Linked DNA regions of Homo sapiens. The protein of the gene in region 1 interacts with the protein of each later gene in a pairwise test. Each region holds a gene or a part of one and is shown on either strand. Other genes may lie near its edges.

The links.
Region 2: the proteins of AMPD3 (region 1) and KCNIP1 interact in binary tests that used the Homo sapiens proteins (3 or more experiments, as listed by UniProt).

The regions. Positions count from the first base shown.
Region 1 is NC_000011.10:10,450,649-10,460,633, reverse strand, and holds the start of AMPD3 (AMP deaminase 3), read right to left. Parts: upstream 5,371-9,985; 5' UTR 5,186-5,370; intron 4,579-5,185; exon of another isoform or gene 4,248-4,578; coding exon of another isoform or gene 4,232-4,247; intron 1-4,231. UniProt on the Homo sapiens protein: AMP deaminase plays a critical role in energy metabolism.
Region 2 is NC_000005.10:170,714,228-170,726,687, forward strand, and holds part of KCNIP1 (A-type potassium channel modulatory protein KCNIP1), read left to right. Parts: intron 1-4,530; coding exon 4,531-4,655; intron 4,656-6,093; coding exon 6,094-6,163; intron 6,164-7,530; coding exon of another isoform or gene 7,531-7,605; coding exon 7,606-7,676; intron 7,677-8,485; coding exon 8,486-8,593; intron 8,594-12,460. UniProt on the Homo sapiens protein: Regulatory subunit of Kv4/D (Shal)-type voltage-gated rapidly inactivating A-type potassium channels. Regulates channel density, inactivation kinetics and rate of recovery from inactivation in a calcium-dependent and isoform-specific manner.

The DNA.
Region 1 (9,985 bases):
AGTTTGAGACCATCCTGGCCAACATGGCAAAACCACGTCTCTACTAAAAATACAAAAAAATTAGCCAGGCGTGGTGGCAGGCACCTGTAATCCCAGCTGCTCAGGAGGCTGAGGCAAGAGAATTGCTTAAACCTAGGAGGTGAAGGTTGCAATGAGCCAAGATTGAGCCACTTCACTCCAACCTGGGTAACAGAGTGGGACTCTGCCTCAAAAAAAAAAAAAAAGTATACTCTGGGGCCGGGTGTGGTGGCTCACGCCTGTAATACCAGCACTTTGGGAGGTCAAGGCAAGAGGACTGCTTGAGCCCAGAAGTTTGAGACCAGCCTGGACAACATGGCAAAACCTCATCCCTAAAAAAGATTTAAAGAATTAGCCAGGTATGGTGATGCATGCCTGTAATCCCAGCTGCTAGGGAGGCTGAGGCAGGAGGATCTCTTGAGCCAGGGAGGTTGAGGCTGCAGTGAGTTATGATCGTACTACTGCACTCCAGCCTGGGAGACAGGGTGAGACCTCGTCTCAATTTTAAAAATAAAATATATATATATATATAAAATATATATTATATATAATATATATTATATATAATATATATTTTATATATGTATACATACATATATATACTCTGCAAAGAACTTCATACTTATTAACTCAGTTAATCTTATTATTCCCACTTGACAGATGAGAAAATGAAGGCATAGAGAGCTAACATGCCCAGGGTCACACTTTTAATAAGTCAGCAGAGATTTGTGCTGTTCTCAGCCTTTCTCTCTCATCCCTTTCCTCTCTGATCCTCAGCTCAGGGATCTGAACCCAGGCACCTGGTTCCTGCCTCTGTCCCCTCACCCACCATGCTGTGCTGCTTCTCTTTGTCCACGTATGTGTCCGGGCAGGGGCTCCTCACAGTCCCCAGCATAACACTTGTGGAATGGATTAATACTGCACCCTTTTCGACAAGCCACCCTCGTTGGGAGCAGCTCTGGAAGAGGAGTTTCCCATCTACCTATGACCACAGTTTCTTTAAAGTTGGTTTAAAGAGAGAAGTGGTTTTGTGGACCAGACAGACAAGAATGGAGATGAGACAGAGCCCTGCTGCTGTCCAGCAGGGAGAAGTGCAGCTACAGGGGAGGGGAACACACTAGGCCATCTTGGGACAGTCATTCTCCGGCCTCACAATGTTCTCATCTGTGAGATAAAGGGATTGAACTAAGTGGTCTCTAAGGCCCTCTCAGCTCTAAGTGGCATAATTCTAGGTACCAGAGAGATTTCCGGTGCCTGAGGAGGGCTTGCTGCTCTGAGTCTGAGTGGCATGTGGGACTAAGTCATGACACAGACAGGAAGGAAGAAAGCAGGCTAGCAACAGGCAATCAGAGTGAGGTCTGTGGCTCCCTTAACTCTGAGACCCAAGGACCTGCCACTCCCTGATGAGAGGAGTGGGAGGGAGCTGGTGGGGAACAGCCTGTCAACACACAACTGTCTGGGGAGCAGACATCAAGACAGCGAGGCCTGGCCTCTGCAAAAAGGAAGAGGAACAGAGCTGCCTGTGGGGATTTCCATGTCTTGATAGCAGAGAGGGGGGAAGCTGGAGGCCATCAAAGGAGGTGACAGGGGAGAGAAAGTCTGGAACAGCACAAAGAACCAGACCCAGGAGGCTCCATCAGGCTGAAACGAAACTGGATCCTCACCTCCCCCCTTATTCCAAGGCCACCAATCAAGGGCACCATCCCAAAACCTCACATCGCATCTCAGAAGAAGATATGCAACCCAACAGCCCAGGCAAAAGGCCGCAAATGCCATAAAGCACCATACCATTTGACTAAGCAACTTTACTTCTACAAATTTCTTTCAAAAAAAGAATCCTAAGAATGAAAAGCACAAGGATATTTACCTGCATTATTTACATAAATAGCTTTAAAATGCCTAAATTAGAGCATACTCACTTGAAAAAGATGTTAAGTAATCAGAATTATGATTATGAGGATGGTGCAATCACATAAAAAAATAAAAATACAGTAAATGAAAAAATTAATACATAGAACCATACCCATGCTTTATTTACAGTGAAAGGAAAATGCATCCCTTTATGGGCAAGACCTGCAAGAGATTCACGCAGTCAAAATGACCAGGTGGCAGGGCTGCCTGTGTGTGAGAGGATATTTTATTTTGATGATGAATGCTATTATAATGCCATTTTTAACAAATACAAAGAGAATAGAAAGAAAATGAGTAGACTTAAGACTCTATGAAAAGAGAGAAAAATAGGAAAACAAACTTCTTTTTCTGGCAGGTTTTGGCAATTAGGGCTCCCTCCTTAATTGCCGAAGGGAGGGAGGGAGGGAGCATCACCATACCTGGCTAATTTTTTTTTTTTTTTTTTTTTTTAGAGATGAGGTTTTGCCATGTTGTCCAGGCAATTTGGGAGGCTGAGGAGGAAGGATCACTTGAGGCTAAGAGTTCAAGATCAGCCTAACCCACACTATTGAGAGGCCAGGCCAAAGGGAGTTTCACCATTCAGACCTATCTCTGTGTTAGCTCCTACCCTGGACAGAAGCCATCCACCACCAGCAGCACCTTCCTACCTCCTTCATGCCCTCAGACACACACAGGCCTGACCCAGACACCCCCAACCAGGCTCCCTTGGCAATGGGTATTTGGGTGGGAGGGAAGTCCTTGATGTCTGAGGGCTCTTATGCCAGATCCTGCCATGTTTGCTCATGAAGCATGCATTTATTCATTGATTGATTGAGAGACAGGGTCTCAGTTGCCCAGGCTGGAGTGCAGTGGCACAATCACAGCTTACTGCAGCCTCGACCTCACAGGCTCCGGTGATTCTCCCACCTCAGCCTCCCGAGTAGCTGGGACCACAGGCACACACCACTATGCCTGGCTAATTTTTGTATTTTTAGTAGAGATGGGGTTTCACCATGTTGGCCAGGCTGGTCTTGAACTCCTGGTCTCAAGTGATCCGCCTGCCTTGGCCTCCCAGGGTCTAGGATTATAGGTGTGAGCCATCATACCAGCGCACAAAGCATTTTTAGCTTGCTCTAATCAACTAAAAATACTTTTCAGGACACAGCTTTCTATAACATATCTTCCTTTCTCTTTAGCTTAAATCAACCTTTCCCAAACTGGATGCCATAAGAAATTGATACCTGTTGCTGGTAAAACAGGTCCTGTGGTCAGTTATTGGGAGATGTTGCATTCCACAGCCCCTCAACTCACATTCATAAGGCTCATTAAAATCAAGGATCATAGAGTAACATTAACATACAGAACCCTTTTTGTTTTACAGAACCCATAAAAATCTTCCGCAGAACTACTACCAGTGTCTTAAATAGTTGGTAGATAATTCATTCCAAGACCGGGTGCAGTGGCTCATGCCTATAATCCAAGCAATTTGGGAGGCTGAAGAGGATCGCTTGAGGCCAGGAGTTCGAGATCAGCCTGGTGCAATATGTCAGAACCTCATCTCTACAAAAAATAGAAAAAAAAACAGCCAGGTGTGGTGGCATGCACCTGTGGTCTCAGCTATTTGGAAGGCTGAGTTGGGAGAATTGCTCGAGTCCTGGAGGTGCAGGCTGCAGTGAGCCATGATGGCACCACCGTACTCCAGCCTGGGTGACAGAGCAAGACCTTCTCTCAAAAAAAAAAAAAAAAAAGCAAGAAACAACAGCAACCACAACAAAATAATTAATTCCATATCTTAGTATGGACCAAGTAACCCACTTGGGGTGCTGCAGGCCTTAGCAGCTGCCCCCACATCTGCTGCCTTCTGGATGTCCTTGGCAGACAGCTCCCACCTGCCAACCCGTCCCTCCAGAGTGTCTCTCCTCTCAGACCCTCCAGACACCTGCCAGGCCAGGCCTGACAAGGAAAGCTCACTCTGCAGATGCCAAGCAGAGCTTCAGCTCCAGCTGCATGTTCACGCCTGGCTTCCAACCCTTTGTCAGCTGAAGCCAGCAGGCTTGGGAGGCTTAGCTGTGAATTCACCAGCATCAGTCAGCCAATGATACAGCTTATCTCACTGTTACATGCAACACGCTCTGATGAACTTGAAGAAGTGTCCCAAAGTTAGAAAGTTCTAAAACACTGCCAGTTTCAACAAACAGTAACTTTTCATGGTGCCACAGTCCCTCCAGAAAGGAAGCCCAGTGCCACTGAAATCCCCTCGTTATACGAAGGAAGCTGGTTCCTACTCTTGCCAGACTCCCCTTGCAGAAGCCCCGACACAGACCTGAGCCTGGCTCCATGACTGGTCCTGAAGATGCCACTCAAGTGATGCACCCGGGTGAGGTGCTGCCTGCCACCCAGGAGGCTCAGCTGAGTCAGTGCGTGCGTGCAGCTGGCTGGGTCCTGTCTGCCGGCTGGAGTAGGAGGTCTCTGTTTTGCATATCTGTGAGCAGCAGTGAGCCAGAGCAGGAAAAGCCTGGGCTGGAAATTCTCTCGTGAATATGAAATATGAGTGGAAAATTTCCAAGAGCCCTGAAGTCCCCAGGTAATCCCAGTTATCCAAAACAAAATGGCTGTGGTATCCTGAATGCAGTGTCCTGGCCCTCTTCACAGCCCTCACAAGAGGAAACTAAAGCGGCGGCTTCCTCTTTACAACAGTAAACTCAGCCGTCCTGCCCAGCTGCAGGAGATAAGCCACAGCCTCCCTCTAACGCCCAGCCTCCTCCTGAAAGCTGAGTAGCAACGAGCGATATCATCACCTTTGCTGCTTCCGTTCTGAACGTGCTTCAGGCCTGGCTGCATTTTATCAAGGGGATTGGTCTCAGGTACAGCCCGACCTGCCTCTTCTCAGAAAGCCCCCCTAAAGCAGCCCTCCCAAGGGCACCCCATAACTGCCAGGGGGAGCTTCAATCCCAGTTGCTAATACAATCCCCTCCATCCCCTCCTCCTCTGAAAGGGAAAGACCATGAACTGCTTCCACCTTTCCCAGGAAAGGACAGAGACTCAGGGAGCAGGAACTGCCTCAGCACAGAGGCGGACAGAGGACAGGGGCAGGCTAGGATGAAAAGCTGACAGCCCCATCCCACTCCTTCCTTTCTTCCCAGAAGGAAGCCCACATCACAGGTGACTGCGAAGCCTGATAAGCTTTACCAGAACCCCCACCCCCATCCACACACACAGAAAAGGAGTACACCCCAACTGACCCACCGGAGCCCACCCCAAACCCTCCCCTGCTTACAGCCGCTCACTGCTCCCACGTGGGCCTCCAGCTCCGAGCGCTGGCTGGACTCTGCCACTCCTCCTGGGGAAGGTGGAGCCTGCCTCAAGTGACCCACAGGAGCAATCCTCTAAAACCAAGCAGGGTTGATTAAAATGGCATCACAGGGTGCAAAGCTCTGATCTTCATCTGCCCTTTAGGAGAGTGGGAAGGCTCAGAACAGACACATAGCCTCCCAGTGACTTAGGCAAATCCTGTGGTCCTGGGAAATAACCATGAGCAAAATGGCTATTTCTGTGGTGCTGTTGAAATCCTGGGGAGAAGAGCTCAGGAAGGATGGGTCAGTTGTTTACCGGGAGGCTAGCTGTAACCCTGACTTGGGCCTGAGTCACCTCCGCATGTCCAATCGTGAGGTTGTGTCTTACTGAGCTCACATCATAATTCCTGTGTGCACAGAGCAGTATTACAGGGTTGACACATGATCCTCGGGCTGCTGCTGGGCTTTAGCTACCCAGAGATTACGGCCCACCTGTCCTCACAGCTGTTTCATAAACAGTGCAACCAGCAGGCTACAAGCAACCTAGAGGGAGGGTAATATTTATTCATTAAACAATTAAATGAACTTACAGTATGAGAAAAAAATCCAAGCCCTTAGTACTATTCTGCCAGAAGGAGGAGGGGCAGATGACTTTTTCTGCTAGTGTTTTGGGGAAAGGGGAGGTAGAGTGGGGACTGCAGTGGGAGGATTCCAGCCCAAGGATTTAAGTCCGACACGTTCAGGGAATTTTATTCTGCACCTTTAACCGGATCCCAGCTAGCCTTAGTCTAAACAAGCATTTTTCAAAGTGCAGTCTGCAGAACATGAAAGGTCAGAAGGCTTGGAAAACACTGCATCCTGTAGTCCCTTATGGGTATTCATGCACAGTTTCTACTAGCAAATTCAACACCTGAGAAGTCCTGCAGTAAAGAAAGCTGCTTAACTTTGTTTAACCCGACGCACTTATTTGACCATCCTAGAACTGCTGTCATAGGAAAAAAACACCTATTAATATCTTGTGGTATCGGCTTTGGGAAACACCCTCCACCTTGAGTCTTCATTTTCCAACTTAGAGAAAGCTGCCTTCCTGGAGCCCAGTTTACAGGTATGAGACCCATTGCATCGGGTTCAGACAGAAACCAGCAGCAGCTCCACTAAGATGACACAGGTTGTAACAATGACCAAGGGTCCTGCTGAAGCCAAAAGGCGGGAAGACTCCCCAGAACATGGGCAGTTTAGAAGAAAAATACAGTTCTGTCCCAGAAGAGCAAGCTCTTCTCAGGACCTCACAATTCCACCTTGAGCCTAACTTGTTGCTGCTTCTTGCAGCCAAGATGTCTCTGTGGACTGAAGAGCACTGATCCCAAGCTCAAAGCCTTATTTCCCTTTCGAACAAACATCAAGACAATTTATGATAACCAGATACAGGGCCCGCTTCTCCTGCCCGAGACTAGACTGCATCCCCTTTTATCACTTAAGCACCCCTTACAAACTCTAAAAGACAGGAGAGGACGGAATCAAATTATGTCTCATCAAGAAAGATATCGGCCGGGCATGGTGGCTCATGCCTGTAATCCCAGCACTTTGGGAGCCCGAGGCAGGTGGATCACAAGGTCAGGAGATTGAGACCATCCTAGCCAACGTGGTGAAACCCCATCTCTACTAAAACACAAAAAATTAGCTGGGCATGGTGGTGCGCACCTGTAGTCCCACCTACTTGAGAGGCTGAGGCAGGGGAATCACTTGAACCCAGGAGGCAGAAGTTGCAGTGAGCTGACATTGCACCACTGCACTGCACTCCAGCCTGGCGACAGAGCAAGACTTTATCTCAAGAAAAAAAAAAAGAAAAAGAAAAAGAAAGATATCACTCTCCTCCCCAAAAGCCAGGCATGAGCTTGCATAGAGGGGTTCATTTTTCTTCTCATTTGTGAGGTGTGTGTGACTCACACAAGGAGTTGGACAAAGGGGATTCACTTGCTAAATACCAGCTCCATGACAAATCTCGCCTGTCTCATTCACAGTTGTATCCCCATACCTGAAATATGGTCGACATTCAGCAAGTATTTGTTGAATGAATGAATGCATAAAACAATGAACAAGTGAACTAGCTATTTATAATAGATCAATCCACCTATGGCAATCTCAGGAATGAGTAGAGTGTATGGCTAAAAACGTAGACTCAGGCTGAGTGTGGTGGCTCACGCCTGTAATCCCAGCGCTTTGGGAGGCCGAGGCGGCCAGACCACTTGAGGTCAGGAGTTTTGAGACCAGCCTGGCCAACATGGGGAAACCCCATCTCTACTAAAAACACAAAAATTAGCCTGGCATGGTAGCGGGCGCCTGTAATCCCAGCTACTTGGGAAGCTGAGGCAGGAGAATCGCTTGAACCCGGGAGGTGGAGGTTGCAGTGAGCTGAGATTGTGCCACTGCACTCCAGCCTGGGTGACAGAGTGAGACTCCATTTCAAACAAACAAACAACAACAAAAAAAACTCCAGCTAGACTCCCTGCATTTGAATCCTGTTCCACCACTTAGTTGTATGACCTTGGGCAAGTTAAATAACTTTTCTGTGGCTCGGTTTTATTCCCTATGAAGTGTGGATAATAAAAAGCCAATCTCATAGGTTGCCATGACAATGAGCATAAGTGAAGTGTTTAGACTGGTACCTGGCATAGAGTATGTGTTTTATAAGCATTATCTGCCAACATCATTGTCATCATCATTATGATATCAGATACGAGAGAGAAGAACTAGGAAAATGAACATGAAGTTTTATCTAGACACTGAATCCTTTTATTCAACCTTATTTATTGAGCACCACCATGTGCCTGGCACTCTCCCAAGTTTCTATTACCTGGGTGCAGGAAGAAGGAAAACATATTTAAATGTGAAGCCAGATCAGGAGGAGGAACATCCTTCTCCCCTATGAATGGTACTTCTCGGTGACTGTACACAGCCAGGACTCCAGCCATGAGCTCATCCTCCCATGCCCCAGTCAGTTCCTTACAAATCAAAAGCCCAAAGCAATTGTCTGTTGTCCTAGATATGCAACCAGCATACAGAAGAACTAAGAGATTATTATACTTGGTGGAAGAATCATGGAGGCCAATGGGCAGCTTTAGGGGAGAAAGGGTATCTCCCTGTTAACCCGAAGGCTACATGTTATCTGCCCATGACATTTTCAAGACCTGAGACAGATTTTGAGGCCATTTGAAGAGTGATCCAGTCAGTGTAGAGGCAAAAAAAAACAACTACAAAAAACCTCATCTCTCAAAGAGCTTCTTGACCTAGCTGAGAGCTAGGAGAACCTTAGAAGACAGAGGCTGAGCTAAGGATGGGACTGAGAGGTCAAAGAGTCTCCCAGCCACCACCTATGCAGGTGTCATTATTCCTAGAGAGGGCAGCCCCATACCATCATCCTCAGAGCAAGCCAGGCCCCATGAAGCTGCAGCCAGGCCAGGCCAACTACCCCAGACCTGCTGTCAACACTCCTAGAGGTGTGAAGTGACAGAGGCTCTGTCTGTCTGGCTCAATGGCTCCACTAACACTCGGCCTTAGTGCTGCACAGCCAGGGAAAGAATTTCTCCTCTGCAGGTTCCAGCTGCAGGCAGCTTTTCCATGAAGATGGCCAAATGTTGGTCACTGCATCCTGAGGGAAAGCCAACAGGGGCTCAAGACCATGCTAAAATCCCTCCTTGTGCTGCCTGCTTTCACCCAGCTCCTTTGCTGATGTGTCGCCATCAAGCTTTCAGCCACATACAGTTTGGGGAAATGATACCCTAGTTAGCAAGCCTCTCCTACTCCAAGGCCTCTCAAAACTCTCCCCAGGGACCTCTGCCAGCCTACAACAGCCATTAGCAGCTCTGCTGGCAAAGCAGCTACCAGAAGATCAAGGGCAGAAAGCAGACTGCCAGAGCCCAAGGCTGTACACCTCCCTTGCCGGGAGAGAGCCAAAGAGGTAAGGATGAAGGCCTCAAACGACCTCATCACCCTATCATCCAGTGCATCCCTCGCCTCCAGGTAGAAGTCCACCTCAGCTGTCCACATCCAGCCAGTCCTCAAGCACCTAGGAACTTTGCCCAGGGTGGCAAGTCCCAGGTCCCTTAATTTCTCTAAACCTTGCGATTCCATTCTAGGCCGCCAGGGAATCGGGATGCTGCCCGCTCACCTGAGGCCGCTGGGGCTCGGGCCACCGCAGAGGCAGGGGTAGGGACAGGGACAGGAACAGGGGACAGGGCAAGGGATCGGACCGGAGTCAGCGCCACCGCCTCTGCGAGCAGGGAAGGCGGAAGCCGCGGTTCAGACCCCAGGGCGCTGCTGATTCCCGCCTGGGCCGCAGGGTCCGCGGGGCTGGCCCAAGGTCAGCAGCGCAGCCTCGCGCGCACTCACCGGGTTCGGACGACAGGGCCATGCCGCCGGCCGAAAGGGACGGCCGCAGGGCTGGAGCAAAGGGGACGCGCTGGGCAGAGCGGAGCGGGGCTGCTGGGCACTGAGGCCAGCCGGGGCCAGGGCCCGGCCAGGCCGCGCCCCGCAGCAGGCGCGGGGGCCGGGCGTTCAGAGGGCGCAGCGCTGCGGATCCCCGGCCAGGAGGGCCCCGCGGGAGGAGGGAGGGCCGCCTCAGCAGGGAGGAAGCCGGCCAGCCGCGTGCAGCCCCCGTCGGTGCCCTACCTGGGCGCGGAGCGGAGCAGAGAGAGCCGAGAGGCTACCTGAAGCGCCCGGGCCGCGCCGCCAACGGGAAACTTGAGAGCAGCAGGGGCGCGGCGGCCGCCAGGGCCCTTGGCCGG
Region 2 (12,460 bases), on another chromosome or scaffold:
GCTTCGTAGGAGCATGTGTGCTGCAAGGCTGGCTACAAGCGAGTTTGCAATTTGTGCTTGAGGAAAGCAGAATCCACTGTGGGGACATGTGGAAACCAGATATGATGAAAGGGGCCTGGACTGGCTGGATTCTAGGTCCAGATATGTCACCCATTGCTCAACGACTTAGGACTCAGACAAAGCCAGTTAGTGAGAAGGTTTAGAAGAGATCTCCTATGCTAGAATAGCTTAGCATTGGCTGGATGTGTTTAACAGATACAGAAACCCACTGAAAGTACAGTCATGCTCTGCATAATGACGTTTCCATCAGCAACACAACATACACAATTGTGGTCCCATAAGATTATAACAGAGCTAAAAAATTCCTATTGCCCAGTGACTTCTTGAGGTTCCTGACCCTGTGTGGGCTCAGGCTAACGTGTGTGGTTGTGTCTTCATTTGTAATTTTAAAAAAAGGGTTTTAAAAGAAAAGAAATGAAAATAAAAAATTTTTAAATAGAGAAAAAGCTTATAAAATAAGAAAATAAAGAAAAATATTTTTGTACAGCTAGGCAGTGTGAATTTTAAGCTAAGCGTTATCACAAAAGAGTCCAAAAGTTTGAAAAAAAACCAAATAGTTTGTAAAATAAAGTTAGAGTAAGCTAAGGTTAATTTCTTATTGAAAAAAAAATTTATTAATTTAGTATAGCCCTAAGCATAAAGTATGTATAAAGCCTACCTCATGTTTAGTAATATCCCAGGCCTTCACACTCACTCACCATCACTCACTGACTCACCCAGAGCAACTTCCAGTCCTGTAACTTCCATTCATGGTAAGTGCCCTAATAGTTGTACCATTTTTTATTTTTTACACCTTAGTTTTATTGTACCTTCTCTAAATTTAGTATGTTTGGACACACAAATACTTAAAATACTTACCATTGTGTTACAATTGCCTACAGTATTCAGTACAATAACACACTGTACAGGTTTATAGCCTAGGAGCAAAAGGCCATACCATACAGCCTAGGTGTGTAGCAGGGCTACCCCATCTAGGTTTGCGTGAGTATACTCCACGATGTTCACACGATGACAAAACTGCCTAACAACACATTTCTCAGAGCGTATCCCTGTTGTTAAGCGACACATGACTGAATAAGCAAATGTGCAGTGATTGTGCATTTTTTTTCCTGAGAGAGTCTAAACCCCTCATTCCACACTCAGAAGAGTCTATGATCCCAAAACATTAAGGATCACTTAATCAAAATCATCTACTATTCAATCTGAGAATTTCCTGTGTAGCATCCTCTAGAGTTGGTGATTCCATCTCTCTTTGCCCCTAGTGATAGGTATTCATCACTGTGTGAGGCACTCACAGTTAGAAAATCACTTCTTAATATCACATGCGCAGGGCAATGGTCCCCTCACTCCCTTCACACGTAAGGTTATGGAACAACAGGCATGAGAACGCTGAATGGCTTAAAAGTACTTTACAAACAAAAGGTGCTCTAATTTATTCTTGTTATGTCATTATTGCCATAGTATTACATCTCAAGTTAATTTTTATCTCAACCATTCAAACTTAAGTCTGACTTAGTAACTAGCTCATCATTATTTTTTATAACAAAGTAATGACTAGCAACATCTGGCATCAGACTTTGAACAAACCTCAGAAGGAACTGTCAAGGAGGCTCCCCACGGGTTCACGCTCTTCTCTCCTCCTGCACACAGGGAACAGGGCCATTCTCCTTCCTTTACTGGGACTACCTGGGCTTCATCCAGGGAATCCCCAGGTGGCAACAGGAGGGTGGTGAAAACCGCTGCCCGTCACCTGTAAAGTTTCCTGTGAATGTGTCTACAGCGGCCAGCACCACAAGGCATACAAAGAAAGGGAAGGGAGAGCTGATGTGAGAGCGGCAGCGTGGGCACTCCTGTGAGGTTGCCACAGCTGTAGACAAGTTAAATCAGTGCAGTTCAATCAAAAGTCATGACCCATGAGCGTCACAACCAGCACGAGTCTACAAAGGAATACATTAAAACTAAGACCAGAGCACAGCTCACATTAGTGAGGGATGGGATCATTTCATGGAGTTTTTGTTTCAAAATATTTCATTAACATTTCACTTATATACATGTGTGTATACTGGGTTGTGATTTAAATTACAATTCTTACTATAAAATACAGCAAAAGAAAGAAGAAACAAAGAGAGGGCCACTGGTTTACCTAACATCCACAGGCAGGCTACTTCCCAGCATCTTGAGCCCCAAAGAAGTAAATTTCCTTCCACAACCGATGTTACCACAGCCTGACACTTAGCCAATGATGAAAACGAAAAACAAAACAAAAGCTTGGCAGTCAGTATCCAAATATGCAGATACTACAGAATCTGTTTGATGTAGAAGTTGATCCTGCTACCCAGACAGCAAACAACTCATTTATTAATAAAGTCCAGTTCCTCCTTAATGAAGTGGGTTTAATAGTTGATATCTCAATAATTACTTAGTGCATTTTTTATGAAGGTGATGGGAAACAAGTGCTGTTTCTTGAGTCGGAAAGAGTCTCTCAAGCTCCCACAAAGAAATTTCCCGAGCTTGTGAGGAATTCAGTCACAGGAAGATCAAGGAATTAAGTGTACTGCAAAAAACCCTTCATGCTTCTGGCTAAGATAAATCTAACAGTGTACTGGATGTCTTCAAGAATACCTCATTTACTCAAAAAATACAATATTCCCATTTTCTTTATTTGCATTTTAATGTGATTTTTGCTTCATCTCCTTTCTTCACTCAAGCCACCTGGGCCGTACCCAGGGAATTCCTAAGGGGCAAAAGGAGGGATGTGAAAACCTCTGCAGCCCCTTCGGAAGTTTCTTGTGAATATATGCACAGATAAACAGATGTGCATTTTAAAAATAAAAATGCTTTTAGATCTAATGCTAGGAGATTCAAACCAACAATTAATTTCTCTGTTAAAATGGGTTAAAATAGATGTAAAATATTAATATGTATATAAGCATTCTGAATTAGACTTATGTGAATTTTTCTCCTTTTCTTTCTTTCTTTTTGAGAATAAGCCCTTTCATTTACGTAGAAATGCTTCAGCGTTTAGATAATTGCTACTTATCTTGTTAGCTACAAACACAACCATAATTAAAGGCTCTGTAAGAATTATGAATTCTGGGGAAATTGGCCACTTGTCTCTGTGGCGTAAACAGTATCTAATTTATAACAAATCATCTGCCTTAGTCCCAGCAGGATAAGGTGATATGTATTGCCCAGCACATGAGAAAGATGGCAATTAGGAATTGTTACCAAGTTACGGGAGCCTCACACGAACATCCATCACCTTTGGGGATATGTACAAGATACAAACTTAATTTGATGGATTCCTTTTGTATTGGGATCAAAGTCTCAAAAGGGAAAGTGACAATTTCAGGGAAAATCTGGTGCAATGAGACCAACACTGATGAGAGAAATGCACACAATTTAATACACCTGCTCACCTGATGTGGCAACTCAGCCTGTGCTTGCTGTGGGTTGCCACAGGATGAGACATGGTCTGTGCATATTCCCAGCAGCCACCCATCTCATCACTATTCTTGCCAGCCCAGATTTACAGTTGTTCAATAGATGGATTTGGTAATATCTGCATGACAACAACAGGCAGAGAAGGTTAGATGGCAATTGATTCTTGATTGGTGTAAGTTTATAGAACACATTCTGGCAGGGCCCAAAGGAAATCACTCACCTACCCCTCTGTGATGGTAAAACGTTGAAAATTCCACGGACTTGGACCTTGTGATCCTTCAGTGGAAGATGGGCAGATTCCTTGCTTTAATTGACAGACACTTTCTAAATAACTAATGCAATCTTATATTACATTATAGTCCATAAGGGAGACATACTTAAACTACTACTTACAACAACTGTTTTTAGAGCCTTTCAAATGGTTTGTACAAAGTAGCTCCCATTTAAGATATTTTCCTAGTATTTAAGGCTATCTAGTAGACATTACAAAACAATACGCTGTAAATACATTCAGATTTTTATCAGTAATACTTAACATGCCGTAATTTGAACTTTCTGCTAAATCATGCTATCCATTCCTAGTTGGCCCCAATGGTGAGAGTTTACTGTTTCTTTAAATAATTTTGTTTCCCTTTGCTGTCTAGAGGTGTTTATCATTCTGCTTACTTGCCTGTGTCTCTGGAATATTCAGAAGGTTCCATGGGAAACAATTTGAATATGCAAAGAAGTTATTTTTAAAGCAAGGAAAATGTTTTCATATGGATTTATTTTGAGCACTTCTGCCTTTGCCTCCACTGGGAACATGTTTCTCTCCAACGCCGAAGCCCCCTCCCTGTGTGGTGTTTGACGCAGAGGCTGACAGGGCAGGGAAGTGGGGTTCAAGATAGGAAGGCCATTGGCAGTGTGACCCCAGCCCACAGTCCTAGATCCCAGGTCGTGACACCACTCTTTTGACAGCCCAGATTGTTACCTAACAAGAATGACTCCCAAGCTCAACCATTCCAATGCCATCTCCTCTGGTTCCAGATAAGATTGAAGATGAGCTGGAGATGACCATGGTTTGCCATCGGCCCGAGGGACTGGAGCAGCTCGAGGCCCAGACCAACTTCACCAAGAGGGAGCTGCAGGTCCTTTATCGAGGCTTCAAAAATGTAAGACCCGTGCACGCTCTGAAGGCCTGGGGGGGGTTCCCACGTGAGGCTACACTCTCCCCAATGCCAAGGGAGCTCATAAGGCGTTTCCCATATGTGAGGCTGTACAAGGAAGGCCAGCTCTATAAAGGGGGCATGAGAGGGAGATCACCTGGCTAGAAAGGAAGGCTCCAGGCGAGGATGGAGCAACCTCAGGAGACAGTAAACGGCCAACTGCCCAGAAATTTCACAGGGTGGCACATCCTCAAGGAATTCACCCTGGCCCAGGGTCAAGCCTTAGCCCTTAACATAATCATACCTTCCAACCTGGTGGTGCCCCCACAATAATGGGATTTGGCCCTGCTGACTTATGCTAACCAGGCTCACCGAGACTGATGTGTAAGCCGAATGTCGGTGTATTAATTTACCTTGGGAAATGGAACTGACAGTGGAAACAGACACTCCTCTCCCTTCGCTGGGACCCGCTCTCCTTGGAAGCCACATGGAAGCCAGGTTACAATCAAAAGTGGAGTCAGAGGACGGGAGTTCCTTGTTTAGTTGTTACTTTAAATACATTAATGTGTTCCTGCAGTCTCAGGCCAGTTTGAGAGCTCTCAGATACAATCCTGGATATTAATTTATTTTTTAAGTTTAACTCTCAGAGTGCAATCTTATTCCCAAATCCTGGAGTGGTGTGGAGTGGGGTGGGCTACAGCGACATGCACCTGGTCACCCTCCCTCCAGGTGCAGTCTGTAGGTAGAGCTGAGCTGGGTCAGTTCCAAACTGACCACAGCCTCAATGTTCTCCAAACTGCTGACCCACAGGGATTCCAGCCCCTCCTGGGAGTTATCTGACAGGTGCTGGGATGCCTCTTCCTTCCACACTAGCCTTGACTGCACATGCCAAGTGCCCAGTTTCCTACCATTAGGGCTTCTTTCCTTCGATGGCAGCATTAGCAGTGGGCAGCCGAGTTGGAGAAGGATCCTGTGGGAAAGTTTTCCAGGCAGGCACTGGGCTCAGAGGGAACAGCATCCAGAAAAGAGAAGAAATCTACACTGCTTGGCATCTACCATGGACTCAATACCACCTAACATAGGTTCATAAGATACCCTTGGGGAAGTTATTGTTACCCCCATTTTACAGGTAAGGATATTGAGGATCAGAGACTGGCTTGGCCAAAGTCACAAAGCTTAGTATTGGCTGAGCCAGGATTTAAACCCAGGTTTTTCTGATCTTAAAGCCCCAAATCTCTCCACCTCACAGTGCCCATTCTCTGACAATGTCTCATCATTTTGCAAAGCAGCTCCAGTCCTGAGATGGCACTACTTGGGAGAAGTGGAAATGCACAGGTCCCTGTCCCTGGGGATCATGAGGAACCCCAGACACCAAGGCTGGGCCCAGTCTTCTCCTAGTGCTGGCCCTCAAATGCCTCCCGCTGACTCTCTCCCCTTCCCACAGGAGTGCCCCAGTGGTGTGGTCAACGAAGACACATTCAAGCAGATCTATGCTCAGTTTTTCCCTCATGGAGGTGAGTCTGACCTTGAAATCTATCTTGCCCAGCTCCCTCTCTGGTAAGCAGCCTTCCCTTCCTCCAAGTCCTCTCTTCCTTGCCATTTGCTTCCTTCTCGAGGAAGAGACAAACTCAGGGCAGGACACCTCCCTCATCGTGAGAGGTGGGAGTCTCCAAAGCTTTAGCAGGAAAGAACTCTGAAAATGAACCCACCCTGGAAGGGGAAGAAGGGCTGATAATGCAACATCACAACGTCTCAGAACAGCTCTAGAAAGCAGGTATTATAATCCCAGATGGAGTAACTGAGTTTCGGGGAAGATAAGCAGTGTACTCAAGATTGCACAGCTGGTGAGTAGCAAACCAGGATTAGATTCCATAAGGGTCTGAAACAGGTTTTGCCATGCTGGCACCACCATTGTGCAGGGCACTTTTGAATCTTTTCCTTAAAATAGCTGAGACAAGCTGGAATTTTGTAAAAGAACTTCAGTAAATACCGAAGACTATAAAAATAAACTAATTGAAAAAGAGGCAGGAAACATAAAGTTGTGCTTATTAAGCCAGTTTACAAGTGTGCCAGGCCCACAACAGCTGCTCTGTTGCCCTGCCCGACTCCTGTGGGAACCAGCTGTGTCCCCATGGGCCTGGGACCACATCGGTGACTCCTCCTGTGGCCTCCATGTGTCACATGCCACTTTGCATCCTGTCACCAAGAGCTGTCTCCTGCAAGACATCTTCCCTGGATCCTGACAAAATGCAAATCCAAGTATTCCAAACACTTCTTGGGCCCTGTTTCTCATGGGCCTTTTTGGCAGCAGACAGATGCCTTCCTTGGTGTGTGGGGCCCCTACCCAGATCAGGTGGGGGAGGCAGTTTTGTCCCATGCAGGCCCCAGAATTGCAGTTTGCTGAGTTCCACTGAGCCACTGTTTATTGAGTTCTCACTGTATGCCAGGCACAGCTGTAGTTTAAAATACTTTTTAAAAAATTTCAAGAGATAGGTCTTGCTACATCCCATTGTAGAGAGGTAGGAAAGGGAAGCTCAGAGAGGTCGTGCTTGATGCCCACAGTCACATAGCTTATGTAGTACAGCGGCATCCAAGTTCAGGTCTCTCTACTCTGGAGTGAGTGCTCATCCCAGGCATTCATGGCCGTTCAGAAGAACATTGTCATGCAGTCACTGTGCCATTCATACACCAACGACTCCATGCATAGACAGGCAGGAGAATGGTTTTCTCATGATGGCTAGAGGGAGGGGCAAGGGCTCATCTCACTTTTTGCTAGATCTAACTTCACACCCAAACCCAAAGAGTTGAGTCAATGGGCCCCACTCCATAATTTTCTCCTTTCCATCACCCTAGCATCACTCTCCTCTCTTTCTTGTCGAAGCCCTGCCTTGTTTGGAAGGTTCTCCCTGTGTGGAATTCCTGCCCCCATCACCTGCCCTCCTTTTCTGCCTTGTAGATGCCAGCACGTATGCCCATTACCTCTTCAATGCCTTCGACACCACTCAGACAGGCTCCGTGAAGTTCGAGGTACGCTCATCTGGGGTCCACTCTAGGGGTCCTCTGGTTCTGCATCACCTCCCCCTCTAAATCTCAAGGCATTGGGGGAAGGTCTGGACCATCAAAAGCTCTCAGTCAGACCAAAGACATGTTTATCCATTTGTAAGCATTTCCTAAAGATGGGGAAAAGCAGCAGCAACTTTCCCTGGCCTGCAGGAACTCAGGGACTCAGGGGACTAATAACAACAGTGTATGAGCTTCCGGGCACACTGCTTCCCAGTGGCAGCCCCTGTACTTAGGGCTTTGTATGTATTAATTCATTTACTCCAATTCCCACAATAACCCTATAGGGTAGGGTTTTATTATTGATTACCTTTTTACAGAAGAGGAGAGTAAGGCAAAGAGAGATAGAGTAGTTTTCCCAAGGTCAAAGAGCACATAAATGATAAAGGATGGATTTGAATGTAGGCAGAATGACCCTCAATACAGACTGTTCCTACAGTCCACGTCCTCAGCCACTAGACCATACGGCCACTGGGATGATAGACAGACCACTGCAGCCATGGATAAGGCAAAAACAGGGCTGGCTGTGTTGATCTGTGTCTCTCAGAGCTCCATTCTTCCTCAAGGGGGCACCTTGCAAAAAAAAACAAAAAAATGGGGCAGGGTAGGGAACTGAAGGCAGGAGCTCTTCACAGAGCATAGCCACATCCTCCAGGCAGACAAGAGGACGCAGGAGGCACCATTCTGTGAGAGTATCACAGTCTGACCCAAAGACACAGCTTCACACTGTCTGATGGCTTGATGGTTAATGTCACTCTGCCTTTTCCCCTTCTCAGGACTTTGTAACCGCTCTGTCGATTTTATTGAGAGGAACTGTCCACGAGAAACTAAGGTGGACATTTAATTTGTATGACATCAACAAGGACGGATACATAAACAAAGAGGTAAGTGAGCTGGGGCCAGGGGTGTGAGAGGGCTCCAGTGAAGGTAACTAACCCAACAGAAAACAGCCCCAGGCATGAGGATAGCACTGTCTGAATGAGGCAGGCTCTGCTTTGGGGCTAACAGAGCTGGTCCCTGGCAAAATAAAGAAGGCCTCCCTCATTGCCCTACCCTGCCCTGTTCCCAAGCGCCCAGAAAGGATTAAACAGATTCATTCTCACTGGGTCACCTAGATTCAGTAGATATTACACAGTGGATAAAAATGACTTGTTTCAGTGTGAAGAGTTACTCTTCCCTAGGGAACCTGCATTTGGGAAGGTTAGGAGCCACAAGTCAAAGCTAAAAGTTGAAATGGTGGAATTGTAGGCAGCACCTAGAATAGAAAAGAAAGATTTTTAAGGAAGAGGAACCTACAATTGGGTCATATTGGCCTTAAACTATTTTGCCTATTAATACAACCGCCAAGGGGGTAATGGAAGGTACAGCTGTCTTTACAGAAATTATCACAAATAATTTCTGAATCTTCACTGCTTTGCACTTTTAGAACCTCAGAGGACATGTCTCTAGCCAGTGAAATACCCTCAGGTCTATCTCAAAACTCACTTTGGTATCCACTGTATCCTGGTATCTCAGTGGAAGCTGGAAATTGGCATCCTGTAACACTCCACTTGCTGAGCTCCTGTGTGCCAGGCACGGTGCCTGGAGGTATAGATATCAGCACCAATCTTCACCTCAACCCGGCAAGCTTCTCTCTGTAAGCTCAGAGAGTTTATCCAACTTTCATTCCTCATTCATTTAGTCATGTTTTTAATTAACACAGATTTGAAGGCTTATTAGGTGTTCTAGGTGCTGGAGGTAAAGAGGTGAACAATCAGACTAGGCCCCACACTGGAGCAGCATAGAGAGATGGACAATAAACAGGCCAAAAAGGAATCAGCAGGTAGAAGATATTTTGGCAGGGAAGGTTAGCAAAGGCCTCTCCAAGGAGGTGTCGTCATACTGGAACCAGTTATACAAAAAGCCAGGAAAAGTGTTCCAGGCAGAAGGAACAGCCACTAGAGAGGCTTTGAGGCAAGATAGAGCTTCATGTGTTTCAAAAACAGAAAGGCTTCAGATGGCTGCAGATGAAGGTATGAAGCTGAAGACTAGTGCAGGATGAGCCTGACAGGTCAGCAGAGTCAGATGGTGGAGGGCTAGGGTAAGGGGCCCATCCATATTCCCCTGGGAAGCTCTTAGATGAACATGTTTTTTGAAAGACACAAAAGGCAAAAACAGACTTAAAAAGAATCAGAAAATCTGACTAGCTCTGTATTATTTAGAGAAATTATATTCACAGTTAAAAACCATTCCCAAATAAAATTATAGGCCCAGATGGTGGACTGGTGAATTCTAATATCAATCCTACAAAAAAATTTTAGAAAATAGAGGAGGATGGAACATTTCCCAGCTTGTTTTATAAGTCCAATAGTACCCTGATACCCAAACCAAAGAAAAAAAGGTCTTATGAAAGGAAACAACTACAAAACAGTCTCCCTCGTGAGCACAGATAAAAAAGCTTTCACTAAATATTAGCAAATTGAATTCAGCAATATATAAAAAGGATGATACAATACAACTATGTGAGTTTTATTCTAGGAAGGCAAGGTTGGTTTAACATTCAAAAACCAATCAATATAATTCACTATATTTAAAGAAACCAAAGGGATATAGACTGGAAAGGAAGAATTAACACTGTCTTTATTTGTACATGGTATAATTGTATTAATAGAAAACCCTAAGAGTCTACAAATAAACTGCTAAAAATAATAAGTGAATTTAACAAAGTGAAGACATGAGTTCTATTTACAAAAATCATTTATAATTCTACATCCAACAAGCAACCAGAAAATTAAATTAAGAAAAATAGCATCAAAAAGCACAAAATACTTTGAGAAAAATTCAACAAAACAGGTGCAAGACTCATACACTGAAAACTATAAAATATTGCTGAAATAAAGTAAAGAACTAAATAAACACAGAGATAAATCATGCTCATGGGTTGGAAGGCCCAATATAGTTAAGATGTGGATTCTCCAAATTTGATTTATAGATTTAGTGTGATCTCAATCAAAATCCCAGCAGGTATTTTGTAGCAGTTGATATGGGAATGCAAAAAACCTAAAATAACCAAAACATCTGAAAAAGAACAAAGTTGAAGGACTAAACCTACCTTACTTCAAGACTTAATGAAAATGTGCAGTAGTCAAGATGGTAGGGAATTGGCATAAGGATAGACATATAGATCAATGGATCAAAATAGAGAGTCAAAAAAACTAAAAGTAGAGCTACCATATGATCCAACAATCCCACTGCTGGCTATATACCCCATGTAAAGGAAACCAGTATATCAAAGAGATATCTGCACTCCCATGTTTTTTGCAGATCTGTTCATAATAGCCAAGATTTGGAAGCAACCTAAGTGTCCATCAACAGATGAATGGATAAAGAAAATCTGGTACTTATACACAATGGAGTACTTCTGCCATAAAATAGAATGAGATTTAATCATCTACAACGTGGATGGAATTGGAGGTCATTACATTAAGTGAAATGAACCAGGCACAGAAAGACAAACATCCCATGTTCTCTCTTATTTGTTGGATCTAAAAATCAAAACAATATGAAGATAGAGGGCAGAAGGACGGTTACCAGAGGCTGGGAAGGATAGTAGGGGGGCTGTGGGGGAAGTTAGGATAGTCAATGGGTACAAAAAAAATAGAATGAATGAATAAGGCCTGGTATTTGGTAGCACAACAAGGTGACTGTAGTCAATAATTTAATTGAACATTTTAACTAAAAGAGTGTAATTGGTTTGTTTGTAACACAAAGGATAAATGCTTGAAGGGATGGATACCCATTTTTCATGATGTGGTTATTACACATTGTATGCCTGTATCAAAACTTGTCATGTACCCCATAAATATATACACCTACTATGTGCCCACAAAAATTAAAAATAAAAAATAAATATTTTTTAAAAATAGAGATAGACCCACCCATATGTCAATGCAACAGATGCCAAAAAGATCAAAGGGGAAAGAACCGTGTTTTCACAGCTGTATATCCATTTGGAAACAAAAATGGACATTAACCTTAACCTCATGCCAAACATAAACATCAACTTGGAATGGATTATAGACTTAAATATTAAAACAAAAGCTGTTTTCTTAAGGAATACATAGGAGAAACATTCTTACAACTTTGGAGTAGGAAAGGATAAGGAATCATTTCTTAAAGTAGATAAATTTGACTTTATCAAAGTTAAAAATTTTGTGCTTTAGAAGACACCTTTAAGAAAATGGAAATGCAAGCCATGGACTTGGAAAAAATGTTTGCAAATTATATACCAGATATATAAAGATACCAGGATACCAAACCAATATAAAGACTGGCATCCAAAATATATAAGGGACATTTATAATTTAATACAAAGATAAACAACTTCATATAAAATAGGCAAAAGATTTGATGAGATATTTAAGAAAAGAAGATATATGAATGGCCAGTAAACCCATGAAAGGTTGCTCTATATCACTGGTCTTCAAAGAAATGCAAATTATAACTATAATGAAATACAATTGCACAGAATGGCCACAATTAAAAAGACTGATAATACCAAGCATTGGCAAAGATGTGGAGCAATAGAAACTCTCATAGATAGCTGGCAGAAATGTAAATGGTACAAACACGTTGGGAAACATTTTGGCATCTTTGATAAAGCTCAGCACACACTTAACATACAACCCAGAAATCCCATTCCAGTCAGGCATGGTGGCTTACGCCTATAATCCCAGTACTTTGGGAGGCTGAGGCAGGCGGATCACTTGAGC